Homo sapiens: one gene and its partners. The protein of the gene in region 4 purifies or fractionates together with the protein of the main gene of each other region. This does not show direct contact. Each region holds a gene or a part of one and is shown on either strand. Other genes may lie near its edges.

The links. The genes of interacting proteins can lie anywhere in the genome.
Region 1: the proteins of RTN3 (region 4) and PGAP4 purify together in Homo sapiens (affinity purification with mass spectrometry; one large-scale study listed by BioGRID and IntAct). This does not show direct contact.
Region 2: the proteins of RTN3 (region 4) and NAGPA purify together in Homo sapiens (affinity purification with mass spectrometry; one large-scale study listed by BioGRID and IntAct). This does not show direct contact.
Region 3: the proteins of RTN3 (region 4) and PLA2G4A fractionate together in Homo sapiens (co-fractionation; one large-scale study listed by BioGRID). This does not show direct contact.

Annotation. Positions count from the first base shown.
Region 1 is NC_000009.12:101,480,674-101,484,173, reverse strand, and holds part of PGAP4 (GPI-N-acetylgalactosamine transferase PGAP4), read left to right. Parts: intron 1-2,667; exon of another isoform or gene 2,668-2,811; intron 2,812-3,448; exon of another isoform or gene 3,449-3,500. UniProt on the Homo sapiens protein: Golgi-resident glycosylphosphatidylinositol (GPI)-N-acetylgalactosamine transferase that catalyzes the N-acetyl-beta-D-galactosamine transfer from an UDP-N-acetyl-alpha-D-galactosamine to the 4-OH-position of the first mannose of the glycosylphosphatidylinositol (GPI) of a GPI-anchored protein (GPI-AP).
Region 2 is NC_000016.10:5,024,344-5,027,639, reverse strand, and holds the end of NAGPA (N-acetylglucosamine-1-phosphodiester alpha-N-acetylglucosaminidase precursor), read left to right. Parts: intron 1-260; coding exon 261-362; intron 363-441; coding exon 442-505; intron 506-1,954; coding exon 1,955-2,162; 3' UTR 2,163-2,796; downstream 2,797-3,296. UniProt on the Homo sapiens protein: Catalyzes the second step in the formation of the mannose 6-phosphate targeting signal on lysosomal enzyme oligosaccharides by removing GlcNAc residues from GlcNAc-alpha-P-mannose moieties, which are formed in the first step.
Region 3 is NC_000001.11:186,936,949-186,940,448, reverse strand, and holds part of PLA2G4A (cytosolic phospholipase A2), read right to left. Parts: intron 1,442-3,500; coding exon 1,219-1,441; intron 470-1,218; coding exon 355-469; intron 1-354. UniProt on the Homo sapiens protein: Has primarily calcium-dependent phospholipase and lysophospholipase activities, with a major role in membrane lipid remodeling and biosynthesis of lipid mediators of the inflammatory response.
Region 4 is NC_000011.10:63,723,000-63,726,499, forward strand, and holds part of RTN3 (reticulon-3), read left to right. Parts: intron 1-3,150; coding exon of another isoform or gene 3,151-3,167; exon of another isoform or gene 3,168-3,500. UniProt on the Homo sapiens protein: May be involved in membrane trafficking in the early secretory pathway. Inhibits BACE1 activity and amyloid precursor protein processing. May induce caspase-8 cascade and apoptosis.

The sequences.
Region 1 (3,500 bases), on a different chromosome or scaffold from region 4:
ATACAAAACAGCACTCAACATTTCTTATCCATCTTTGGTAGCATGTGTTGGCATTTCTGCAGAGTAGATTCCTAGAAGTAGGATCGTTATGTCAAAGGGGATGCACTTATAAAATTTTTATAGATACTGCCCCAACACCCCAACATTTCCTCCAAAGATTGCACCAATTTATATTAAAGTGCCTAGTTGTTGAACTGTGACACTCCCTCGAAGTAAATTAAATTCAGATGTTAAATATAGAGATTAATTATGGAGAAAGGGAGCTCTATTACCAAGTCTTTCCACCTAAGCATTATTTTTCTGTTTATTAATGACTTTTTAATTACCCTTTGGTAGAATTTTGTAGTATGTGTGTATATTCTGCATATTTCTGAAATTTATTTCTAGATATTTGAGTTGCTTATTTTTTTCCCTTTTGACTGGGATCTTTTACTCCCTTAGTTCATTGGTGATCATGTACATGAAAGCAGTCATTATAATATAGATAATATAGATACAGATATGGATATGTAATGCATATATATAGTACATGTGTATATATACTTGCTATGTATATTATATATTATTTTTACATATTAATTCTGGTACCAACCATGTTTTGAGTCTATTGCCATTTCTAATGGTTTTTCAGTTGATTTTCCTGGGCTCCAAATTTATGTAGGCAGTAGTGCATATTGGTTGAGAATGTGGGTTCTGGACACAGTCTGCCTGGGTTCAAGTTTTGCCACCCTGCTTAAAAACTTAGTTTTCTAAAGTATAAAATGGGCTTAATAGTCATACTTCTTGGAGGCTTTTTATGAGGATCGATAGATGAGATGCTTAGAACAGTGCCTGGCACATAAGTGTTCTGGAAACATTTACAAATAAGTCGATCTCTACACAGTATATGACCAGCTCTTTGATACTACCAATTTTATAGCTGAGGACCTGAGACCCATAGAGGTCAAAAGAAGCCAATTATTTGCTTAACAAGCATTGAGCATCTTCTATGCATAGTTCTGTGCTGGGTCTGTGAGGGATACCAAAGATAAATCAGACTGAATCTACTAAAAAAGGATTCAAGAGTCCAATCAGATCGTAAGTCAAGGACCATAAACAAGGCCATGGAAGACAACAGGCATCATAGAAAAACATGAGCTTTGAAATTTATCCTTGTCCTTGAATTTCCTCTTGCAACTTGGTAGCATCAGTTTTGTCAACTAAATGGGATTAATTCCATTGCTATTTTGAGAGTTGCTATTTTGTTCAGAAGAAATAGATGCAAGGGTCTAGCACAACATTGGGATATGTAGTATGGCCTTAATAAGCGGTAGCTATAAATAGATGAGTCTGAAGTAGAAAGTGACAAATGAATGCCCTGGAGGAAAAGTTCATAGAAAGGGCCCCAGTACTTGAGGGGAAAAAAAGAGATTCTTTCTGGTTGGAAAGGTCAGGGTTGGGTTTTGGAAGAGGTACCTTTTGAGCTAATTCTTGATGGTTGAGTTAGACAGTGTGAGGAGCAAAAATGCAGCTGGGAAGATAGTTGGAACTGGATTGTGAAGAATCTTGGCAAATAATTTGGACTTTATTCTACAGTCATGGGGGAATCATTGAATAGTTTTACAGAAAAGAGTGCCATGTTCTGACTTATGCTTCAGAGTATCAGATGGATGCTGATCAAGTAAAACATCACCATCATTTGCACAGTGTCCTATGCCTGACAAAGGGCTATCATAGCTGTTGTCTCTTCATCGTCACAGTCTCACTGTGTTGCCAGGCTGGAGTGCAGTGGCATAATCTGGCTCACTGCAACCTCCGACTACCTGGTTCAAGCGATTCTCCTGCCTCAGCCTCCTGAGTAGCTGGGATTACAGGCACGTGCCACCACACCCAGCTAATTATTGTATTTTTAGTAGAGATGGCGTTTCACCATGTTTGCCAGGATGGTCTCGATCTCCTGACCTCGTGATCCGCCTGCCTCGGCGTCCCAAAGTGGTGGGATTACCGGTGTGAGCCACCGCGCCTGGTTGAAGTATCTTTTATTTTCCTGTTTCACAGAGAAATAAAATAGGCTCAGAGAGATAAATGATTTTTTTATACAAATTGATCAAATTAGTGAGTGTTGGGACGAGAATTGGACCTAGATCTTTTGGCTTGTGTTGCTCATTCTGGAGGTCAGAAGCTCTGTTAGGAGCCTGTTGCAATCAGCTGGCTTGGAGGTGCTGAGGAGGAACTAGAGTGTGGCAGGGAGGAAAGCTTGACAAGGGGAAGGCGAGGGGAAAAGAGAGGCATAATAAAAGAGGCCGTAGAGGTGGGATTAGGAAGTGACTGCGTGGAGGTGAGAAGTTAGAACTAACTAGTGTTTTAGACTGAGTTGCCTGGGAAAGTGGTCGTGCCATTCATATAGTGGATTTGGGAAACACAGAACATTCTTGAGCACTCATCCCCTGACTCACACCCTGGTATTGTGTCTTCCACACCCGTGGATCCTTTAGTTTAATTTTCAGAAGTTGCACTAAAATATAACTATTGTTGTAGCTCCATTTATTCATCTAAGCCCTAGTTCATGTTCATTTCTCAGAGTCTGTGTCCTTTACTGTCTTCCCTGAGCCCTACACTCTAGATATGGTAACAGGTAGAGAATTCTGTTTAGGGAAGGGTTGTGTTTCAAAGAGCACATGCAAAGCATAGATAAGAACTGGATATGTATTGTTCTGTAGAATCGGAGCTGTAATGGTGTAACTGTTATTAGGTCAGCTCATAGGTGCCAGTCAGTCCACAGTGTCTCTGGAGTGTGGGCCTCAGCCTGTGACATCATGGGCAACTGGAATTCTGGAAAAAGACAATCAGAGTGGTAACATAGACATAGCCCTCTTGTCTCACCCTTATGATTGGGCTGGGAGTAAAAAAACTCCTTCCCCAAACTAGCAGTGAAAAATCCTATGTTTTTATATCTGTTCCCCTAAGGCCATTTATCTTTTATCTTTTTTTGTTTGTGTGTTTGTTTGTTTTTGTTTGAGACAGGGTTTTTCTCTGTCAACCAGGCTGGAGTGCGGTGGTGCGATCACAGCTCACTGCGGCCTCGACCTGCTGGGGCTCAGGCAATCCTCCTGCCTCAGCCTACTGAGTAGCTAGGACTACAGGAACATGCTACCATGCCTGGCTAATTTTTGTATCTTTTGTTGAGACTAGGTTTTGCCATGTTGCCCAGGCTGGTCTCAATCTCCTGGGCTCAAGCCATCCACCTGCCTCAGCCTCCTAAAGTGCTGGGATTACAGGCTTCAGGCACCACATCCAGCTGGCCATTCTTCTTAAAACCAGATCAGTAAGGTGAAATAAATTATAGGTGCCATTGGACACCACAGGCTACTGTGCAACAATTGGTTAAATCTTTTAAAAAAATGTTTTAAAAAGTAAACAAGAACATACTCCTGAATGACTACATAACTCCATGTGGTTGGATTTTCAGCAAAGCAGTCATCTAATCTTGAATGAAGGATCTGATCCCAGCTCCTGTGTCC
Region 2 (3,296 bases), on a different chromosome or scaffold from region 4:
CGGGCTCTGGCTCCAGGGCCCACCTCAAATCCAGCACGGTCTTATCTTGAGATCCTAACTGCAGTGCCTCTGTAGAGATTCTGCTTCCAAATAAGGTCACGTTCAGGGGCTAGTCCAGGGAGGGCAGGGGGTGCTTCACCTTTAGCCCGGCTCTGTACACATGGGCAGGGGCAGGTATCCTGTCCTGTCGAGAAAGGCTCTGACACTGGAGGCCCCAACCTTTCTCCTCCCTCCTCCCTCCTCCCATCTCCTTTCCATAGAGTGTCCCCTTGGCTGGCATGGGCCGGGCTGCCAGAGGCCTTGTAAGTGTGAGCACCATTGTCCCTGTGACCCCAAGACTGGCAACTGCAGCGTCTCCAGAGGTACCTATCCCTCCAAGGGGAGGGGTATGGGCAGACGCTCCTGCTCCGGCCCCTTCAGCCTGTCTCTGGTATGTTACAGTAAAGCAGTGTCTCCAGCCACCTGAAGCCACCCTGAGGGCGGGAGAACTCTCCTTTTTCACCAGGTAGGTGCTTCTGTGGGAGCTGGGGCCAGGGCGGGAGGAATCCCCCTTCTCTCCCGCACCCTTCCCCTGTGAGGTCCATCTCTGCCCTTGTCCCCTGCCAGCTCCCTGCCTTAGAGGAAGCGGGACCAGCTCTCCCCACTGTCTGCTTTGGGGACCCTGGAGCAGAGCCCAGGGCCTTCGAGTGCCCAGCCTCTGTTGTCAGCATCCCCCACTGGAGCTCAGAATGCAAACTGGGCTAGATGAGATCCCAGGGTGGGGGCAGGAGGTTTCCTCATTCTGTCACCCAGGCAGAAGTGCTGTAGTACAGTCAGCTCACTGCGATCCTCCCGCCTCAGCCTCCCAAGTAGCTAGGACGACAGGCACGTGCCCCCATGCCCGGCTAATTTTATTTCTTACTGTTTTTTAGAGATAGGATCTCACTATTTTGCACAGACGAGGTGCACAGTCCTGGGCTCAAGTGATCCTCCCACCTTGGCCTCCCAGCCCCCATGCCCAGCATCCAGCTGTGTTTTATTTGGCTTACATAATTTTTAAAAAGTTAAAATATATCAGCAGCATCTAAAAATCAGTAACATTCACATTTTTTTAAACTTTTTTTTTTGAGACGGGGTCTCACTCTGTTGCCTAGGCTGGAGTGCAGTGGTGCGATCTCAGCTCACCACAACCTCCGCCTCCTGGGTTCAGGCAATTCTCCTGCCTCAGTCTCCTGAGTAGCTGGGATTACAGGTGCCCGGCTAATTTTCATATTTTTAGTAGAGACAGGATTTCGCCATGTTGGCCAGGCTGGTCTTGAACTCCTGACCTCAAGTGATACGCCCGCCTAAGCCTCACAAAGTGCTGGGATTGCAGGCATGAGCACCACGCCCAGCCTTAAAAACCTTTTTAATGGCTTCTCTTAAAATATCAGGCCAGGCGTGGTGGCTCACGCCTGTAATCCTAGCACTTTGGGAGGCCGAGGCAGGTGGATCACTTGAGGTCAGGAGTTCAAGACCAGCCTGGCCAACATGGTGAAACCTGGTCTCTACTGAAAATACGAAAATTAGCCAGGCGTGGTGATTCGAGCCTGTAGTCCCAGCTACTCGGGAGTCCAAGGCAGGGGAATCGTTTGAAGCCAGGAGGCGGAGATTGCAGTGAGCTGAGATCATGCCACTGCACTCCAGCCTGGATGACAGGGCGAGACTCTGTCTCAAAAAAAAAAAAAAAAAATCAGGAGATGGGGCAGCACGGACCTGCATTGTACGTCATGACTGCCTCTGCTGTTCCCTGCACATGTCTTAAATGTTGCCCCATCCCCACCTAGTCCATTTTGCTCATAACATTCCCTGTGTGGTCCCTGGAGGCACCTGATTTAGTGCTATCTATGCCGGGTAGAGGGAAGCCCCTCCAGTGCTACCCAAGCCCTGAGCCCACCCAGCAGTCCCCCACTTGGGGCTTCTCTCCTGTCTGCAGGACCGCCTGGCTAGCCCTCACCCTGGCGCTGGCCTTCCTCCTGCTGATCAGCACTGCAGCAAACCTGTCCTTGCTCCTGTCCAGAGCAGAGAGGAACCGGCGCCTGCATGGGGACTATGCATACCACCCGCTGCAGGAGATGAACGGGGAGCCTCTGGCCGCAGAGAAGGAGCAGCCAGGGGGCGCCCACAACCCCTTCAAGGACTGAAGCCTCAAGCTGCCCGGGGTGGCACGTCGCGAAAGCTTGTTTCCCCACGGTCTGGCTTCTGCAGGGGAAATTTCAAGGCCACTGGCGTGGACCATCTGGGTGTCCTCAGCCCCTGTGGGGCAGCCAAGTTCCTGATAGCACTTGTGCCTCAGCCCCTCACCTGGCCACCTGCCAGGGCACCTGCAACCCTAGCAATACCATGCTCGCTGGAGAGGCTCAGCTGCCTGCTTCTGGCCTGCCTGTGTCTGCTGCCGAGAAGCCCGTGCCCCCGGGAGGGCTGCCGCACTGCCAAAGAGTCTCCCTCCTCCTGGGGAAGGGGCTGCCAACGAACCAGACTCAGTGACCACGTCATGACAGAACAGCACATCCTGGCCAGCACCCCTGGCTGGAGTGGGTTAAAGGGACGAGTCTGCCTTCCTGGCTGTGACACGGGACCCCTTTTCTACAGACCTCATCACTGGATTTGCCAACTAGAATTCGATTTCCTGTCATAGGAAGCTCCTTGGAAGAAGGGATGGGGGGATGAGATCATGTTTACAGACCTGTTTTGTCATCCTGCTGCCAAGAAGTTTTTTAATCACTTGAATAAATTGATATAATAAAAGGAGCCACCAGGTGGTGTGTGGATTCTGAATCATGGACTTAGGTCACTGCTAGGGCTTAGCAGGTGTGGCTTATCCTGAAACAGAAGTCACAACGGCATCCTGGAGCCAAGTCCTGTTCCCTGCTTGTTTAATCCAGTGCTTATCAAACTTTAATATGCCACAGGTCACGAGGAGATCTTGTTAAAATGCAGATTTGGGCCTGGGGTGAGGCCAGCAATTCTGCGTTTCCAACAAGCTCTCTGACGATGCTGATGCTTCAGGTCCCCAGACCACACTTCTTGTCTTTCTTAGAAACAGGGTCTCGCTCTGTTGCCCTGGCTGGAGTGCAATGGCACGATCTCGGCTCACTGCAATTTTGACCTCCTGGGCTCAAGTGATTCTCCCACCTCAGTCTCTCAAGTAGCTGGGACTATAGGCACATGCCACCATGCCCAGCTAATTTTTAAAATTTTTTTTGCAGAGAAGGGGTGTCACTGAGTTGCCCAGGCTGGTCTCAAGCTCCTGGCCTCAAGTCAACCTCCTGCCATGG
Region 3 (3,500 bases), on a different chromosome or scaffold from region 4:
ATGAAAAGATAACCAACAAGTAAAACAATTTGCACTACCTAAAAGCACTAGGCATATTATTTTGTCAAAAGTTACTGAGGAGTGGATAATTAATTGACTGTATTGATTGATTGTATCCATGATTTTTATTTTACTATAGTAAATGAAAATACATTAGTTACTAGTTTCATGGAATATTCTCTACAACCAGGAAATCATCTCACTTAATATTTTCTTATATCTTCAAAGTCTTATGTTACAGAAAATACATTAAAATAAACAACTGAAATTGCTTATGACCTTCCTCTAAGGAAAACCATGGGAAACTGCAATTCAGAGGTTCCAGGAAGTGTTCTGAGAAAGGAAACAGCATACCTGCAAACATCAGCTCTGAAACGTCAGGTTTGACATGAAGACAGGTGAAAAGAGGTAAAGGGCATTGTGCAGTATTAACTTTTTCCTTCAAACTGCTCAGAGTAGTATTCATTCTCTGTCCACAGAAGAAAGAAAAAGATGACTTTAAATTTATAAACAGACACAGAAAGAATGCTATTCAAAATAGTACTTCCAATCAAAATCTTATAACTTTATAATAAAAATAAGTCTTATTACTTCTAGAAATTACTAGGTCCTGAATGAACAACAAAAAATAAGCTCTATGGAAGTAACTATCTTCATTTAAAAAATAATCATAACTCTAGATTATATGTCTACATCTGAACTGGAGAATGAATTAGCAACTGTGGAGCCTGGAAGAAACTTAGCCCCTGGACTCCCTGTCACAGGCGCTCCTCTGCTTTATCTTCAACGAAACATCAATGCAATCATGCATCAAGCGAGTCTGTTCTATGCGATCCCCTTCCTTTCTTGACTCTATTCAGGCAAACTTCATTCTTCCTCATCTAAAAATGTTACCATTCTTGGAGGGAATGGGCAGTTAAGGGTTAAAATGTGAATTTTTTTTTTTTTTTTTTTTTCCAGAGAAAAGGAATACAAAAGCACTTCCTCACACATTCAAAATCTTTACATCATTGAAATGAATTAGTAAGCACTAGTTTGAAAGGTAGAAGAATTATAATCTCTGGTGGGGAGAATGGGCTCAGTACGCATAGTTGGACAAATAAGTAGAGTCCACTGACTTTTATAAAATGTATTACATTTTCTTTTATTTAAAATATAATATTATAATATGTTCTGTCTACTTGTTATAAAAGCAGTGTAGATTGAACTGTAACTTACATTATGAATTAGTGTTTCTCCTATTAACATCCCAAAGATATCAGTAAAGGTGACAGGTTGTCCAGAGCTTTTCTTCTTCCATAAAGACTCAACATATCTTTTAACTTTCTGTGGTGTGAGAAGTAAAAGGGGATTGTGGCTAACATTTTTCATTAGTTCTTCATTAATCTCCTCTGGCCCTTTCTCTGGAAAATCAGGGTGAGAATACAAGGTTGACATATACCTATACAGAAAACAAAACACAATCAGTAAAGATAAAGAGCATTACACAACAGTCTCCAAAGAAAGAAGGCACACTCTGTAAATAAAGCATGGTGGACATATTTGGTTAACTTCATTATCTGATTGCAGATATTAAAACATTTAAGAAAAGAATGTGTCAATCAGACAGGAGCTAGTCTACCATGAAGGTAAAGAAAAAAAGAGGTGTCAGAGGAAACACTGAACTTTCATCCACAGTCCAAGAGAGAAGGTGCCCTACTAGGACTAGTGTCCATTGTCTGGTGTGCCAGGAATGGAGTATCTCTATCAGAGTATTAGAGATTGATGACAGAGCACATCTGAGTCATGTAAATGAATTGACTTGTCTGGCTCCAAGACTAGTCAAGCAATCTGATCATCTAAATTTCCAGGATGATTATCTACAGGTAGAAAATATGTTGTCCCAACTATTGTAAATTCCTAATTCCCTTGAAAAATCCTTTTTTCTCCTTAATTATCCATTGGCCAACTAGACAAAAATCTCAAATCTTGTCAACTGTAGGTCTCTAAATTTCTGAACATATGAATCTGAAGGCAAAATCCTAAAGAGAAATAAAGTCTTTAAAGTAAATGCTTTCTTACGAAGCCTCTTGTCTGCCAGCCATTTGGCCACTTCTGGTAAAACTGGAAATCACCATGAGCCTTGATATTTGATATCTAGATAATAAAAATTTAGTTATGGTGCTCCTACCTGTGAACCAATACCTCTAGTATGGTAGATCTCATGCTGACTATTAATTACTCGTTTACTTATCTGTTTCCCTCAAGAAATTGTGTCCTCCTCCTTCAGGAAATAAACTTTGTTTATTCATCTTTTTTAGCCTCAGTGACTAGCTAATGTCTGGCATATGACAAGCACAGCTTAGGAAACTCACAGAACAAAATAAAAATAGAATATGTAAACATTCCATCACTTCATCCAACCAAGGAGAAAATAGCACATGTTTTAATCTCTTATTTCCTTGGGATTCAAATCAAAATGTCTACTATAATGGTTATCGTCCCTTCGAGGGGAGAAAACTAATTCTTCTTAGGCCCCTACTATATTCTGGGCACTGTGTTGGTTAATTGTTCATAAGCTGTTGTCTTGAAGACTCACGGTGGCTTTCAAATATTCTATTTTAATTATCAAGAAAAAGAGCATTGGGAAATTTAAATAACATGCTCATATTCCCCAGTTTATAACAGCAGAACTGGAATTCAAAATTTATCCTCTCCCCAGTAGGCTATTTTTTTTTTAGTCTATTATACAAGACTTCAGTTGTTAGAGACCAAACTATTCCTATTTCACAATAAATTATAATTCCTTATTGGGTTTGAGTTCCTTGGAGACAAGCTGAGAATAATAATCAGTTAATAAATGGAGGGTAACAGACCCACAATGGATCACATGTGCAGAAAAAAAAAACTTTAAATGATTTTTGTACAACAAATTGAATTTGAAACAGTTCCCTCAACATGTGATAATGATAAATCAAATAGACTTGCTCAACTCAACTTAGTATAATCACGAAATATCTATAAAAATGCAGCTTTGAATACTTGAAAGATACACAGTTCATTTATTCCTATAGTTATTCCAAAGTCTACCATGTGATTCATCCAAATCAAAAAAGATATGATATTCTGGACCTTCTCATACTTTTAATAAATGCACAATGTACTCTCTGAAGATTGAAGTAATCTGGTGTTCTCTCTCTCTCTCTCTCTCTCTCTTTTCCCGTCTCATGAAGCAGTTGGCTTGGAAATACAAACCCTGGCGAGAAACAGAAAAACCTAGAATACTTCAACCATTGGCATTGGATTAATGGTCTCTGCTTGTTCAGCATTTATGACACATATTCCTTAGAATTCACAAGGAGAGTTGGATAATCTTTTCATGGTGTCCCTGCAGTTACATCTAACTGAGTGAGATTATCTCAAAAAATAAAAAAAAAAAAACATAAAAGTATCACCCCAGTTTTTAACTCTATAGTTAAGCCTTAATTTTCATCTCTTTACCAATAATGTTTCCCAATTAT
Region 4 (3,500 bases):
GACTAGTCTAATTGGTTCAGCATCTTCCTTTGTTAATGTGATGATCATTATTTTGCCCTGCTTTGTATGTTGCAGTAAATAAAGTGCTGTGTAAATGCTAATTATTAGTGATTATCAACTGAATTATTTAATCTAGCGTGAGAGATGTAAAGGGCTATGGAAGTTCAGGATATTTGTCACTGACCAAAGTCTATGATTAGTGTATGTTTTTAGATTGTAATTAAAGAAGACCGGTATAGTTAGACCAAGAAGTTTAAAGGCCTTTCTTGCAGCTTTCAAAAGTGAAAACCTTTTAAAATTGTCTTATTTATGAATAAATCTTTAAAAATATAATCCATTTCATTGCAGTGAAATAAATAAATAAAAACATAAACCATTTCAGTAAAATGCATCAGTGTCTAGTTTTATTTATTTATCTTTTTTTTTTTTTTTTTAATTTTTTGAGACAGAGTCTCACTCTGTTGCCCAGGCTGGAGTGCAGTGGCGCGATCTCGGCTCACTGCAACCTCCACCTCCAGGGTTCAAGCGACTCTCCTGCCTCAGCCTTCCGAGTAGCTGGGATTACAGGCGTGTGCCACCACGCCCAGCTAATTTTTTGTATTTTTACTAGAGATGGGGTTTCACCATGTTGGCCAGGCTGGTCTCTCAAACTCCTGGCTTCAAGTGATCCGCCTGCGTTGGCCTCTCAAAGTGCTGGGATTTACAGGCCTGAGCCACCACACACAGCCGATTGTCTAGTTTTAAATACGTGTATCTGCATATTCTTCCTTTCTAAGGTAAAAACAGTGCTTTAATTATATTCTGCCTTAAGTTGTTTGGGAAAATAGGCAAAAGAAACAATGAAAGAATTAGTGGTTTTCTGTTTGTTTTTGCTATTTTATGGTATATTATGTAACAGCTTGTAATGAAGCCTTTATCATATTATAGTTGGTTGCTGAGTAATTAAGTTATGATAGACTCTCATAGTTTGGGGAAGAAAATCAGATCCCTGCCTCTCACATACCTAGTGTAGTGAAGATAGTTTTTTGTGTTTTAGTATCCAGATTGGCAGGATGCAAGGAAATAAGCATATAGTTTGGTGAAGTACATGTAAATTGTTACAGCCTTTCTGGAAGGCAGTTGGCAATATGTAACAGACCTAGAACTGCCCTAGCAATCTTGTTTTTAGGAATTCTTTTTTTTTTTTTTTTTTTTTTTTTTTGAGACAGAGTCTCGCTCTGTCGCCCAGGCTGGAGTGCAGTGGCGCAATCTCGGCTCACTGCAAGCTCTGCCTCCCGGGTTCACGCCATTCTCCTGCCTCAGCCTCCCGAGTAGCTGGGATTACGGGCGCCTGCTACCACGCCCGGCTAATTTTTTGTATTTTTTAGTACAGACGGGGTTTCACCATGTTAGCCAGGATGGCCTCAATCTCCTGACCTGGTGATCTGCCCACCTCGGCCTCCCAAAGTGCTGGGATTACAGGCGTGAGCCACCCGTGCCCGGCCCTTTTTTTTTTTTTTTTTTTTTTTTAAAGACAGAGTCTCACCGTGTTGCCCAGGCTGGAGTGCAATGGCACGATCTCGGGTCACTGCAACCTCCACCTCCCGGGTTCAAGCGATTCTCCTGCCTCAGCCTCCCAAGTAGCTGGGATTACAGGTGCCTGCCACCACGCCCGGCTAATTTTTTGTATTATTAGTAAAGACGGAGTTTCACTATATTGGCCAGGCTGGTCTCGAACTCCTGACCTCGTGATCCGCCCGCCTTGGCTTCCCAAAATACTGAGATTACAGGCGTGAGCCACGGAACCCAGCTGGAATTTATCCTTTTTTAAAAATGTGCAAAAATAACTACACAGATGTTCATTATAGCACAGTTTATGATAGTGGCAGATATCTCGGTGTCTTAACAATTAGAGATTGGTTGAGTATATTATGGTATAACTGTGCAATCGAATATTACACAGTCATTGAAGTTGTTAAAGTTTTGTTTTTTTTTTTTTTAAGAAATGGAAAAATATAGAAAAGTACAAAGGCAGCCTACACCCATATCTTCTCTATATGTAGAATTAACTTATGTTAATTGTTAGCATTGGTAGTCATATTTGCTTCCAAACTAAAGGACTCTTTGATTACCACCTGGCCACGCCCTCCATCTCCCCTTCCCCAGACGTAACACCGTCATGGACCTGGTACATCCTTCCAGTTTATTTTAAATAAATGTGTTTGTATTGTTTTATGCTTTTTAACCATTCATTCATGTTATCATGTTTGTTGTATAACGTTTTCCATTCAACATTAGGTTTTTAAACTTCTTTCATGTTGGAATTTATATAATTTATTCATTTTAACAGCTATGTAGTAATCCATTATATGAATATATTATTTTCTTTTGGTAAGGATTTAGATTCTTTCCTATTTTTTGCTATTATAGACAGCGCTGAAGTTAACATTCTTCTTTTTTTTTTTCCTTTTTCTTTTTCTTTTTTGAGATGGAGGAGTTTCACTCTGTCGCCCAGGCTGGAGTGCAGTGGTGCAATCTCCGCTCACTGCAAGCTCCGCCTCCCGGGTTCATGCCATTCTCCCGCCTCAGCCTCCTGAGTAGCTGGGACTACAGGCGCCTGCTACCACGCCCAGCTAATTTTATTTTTGTATTTTTAGTAGAGTCGGGGTTTCACTGTGTTAGCCAGGATGGTCTCAATCTCCTGGCCTCGTGATCCGCCCGCCTCGGCCTCCCAAAGTGCTGGAATTACAGGCATGAGCCACCGCGCCCGGCCTTAAGTTAACGTTGTTATACTTGTCTGTTTTTACACATATGTGACTATTTCCCCAGCGTTAGGGTGCTACTGCTTATCAGTTTCACTTCTAGCTCTGTGCCTTATTTTTCTAGTTACTGTCAAAGTTAGTGTCTTCTGTTATGTAAAAATGTTCGTAATTTATTAGTAAAAACTACATTGTTCAGCACCCAGCAGATGGTGGGTGCTAAAGTGGAATGAAAAGAGTTACCAAACAAGGAATACAAAATAATTCCTATCTTGGTATCATTTAAAGTGAATCTATGCTAGAAAGATTCCATAAAGAAAAAAAATGAATCTATATACCTACATATACAGGGAATCTGAAGTAATTTTTAAAAGCAATGTCAGAATGGTTTTCTTTTCTTATGGCCAAGTAGGCTTTTACTGGACCTGACCTTCCTGCATATAACTGGACAAAATTTTTAAAAAACAAAGACCCGAAGGCACTGGAGGATGAACGGGAGCAGTCAGATTCTGAAAGAGAGTTGACACATGTAAGAAGAGACAGCATGAAATTAGTTTTTTATTTTTACTGCTTTTAGCTAGAGGACAGGCTGAAGTGGGCACCTGACAGGCTGGCTTAAACCTTCATAGAAAACCTAAGCAGTGGACAGCATTTGGGTCAGCCACAACCACTGAGTCAGTGGAATGTAAGGGGAGGAGGAATCTTGGAAGGGAGAGATCCAGAGAGTGACAGCCTAAAATTCTGTAGATAAAATAAACTGTG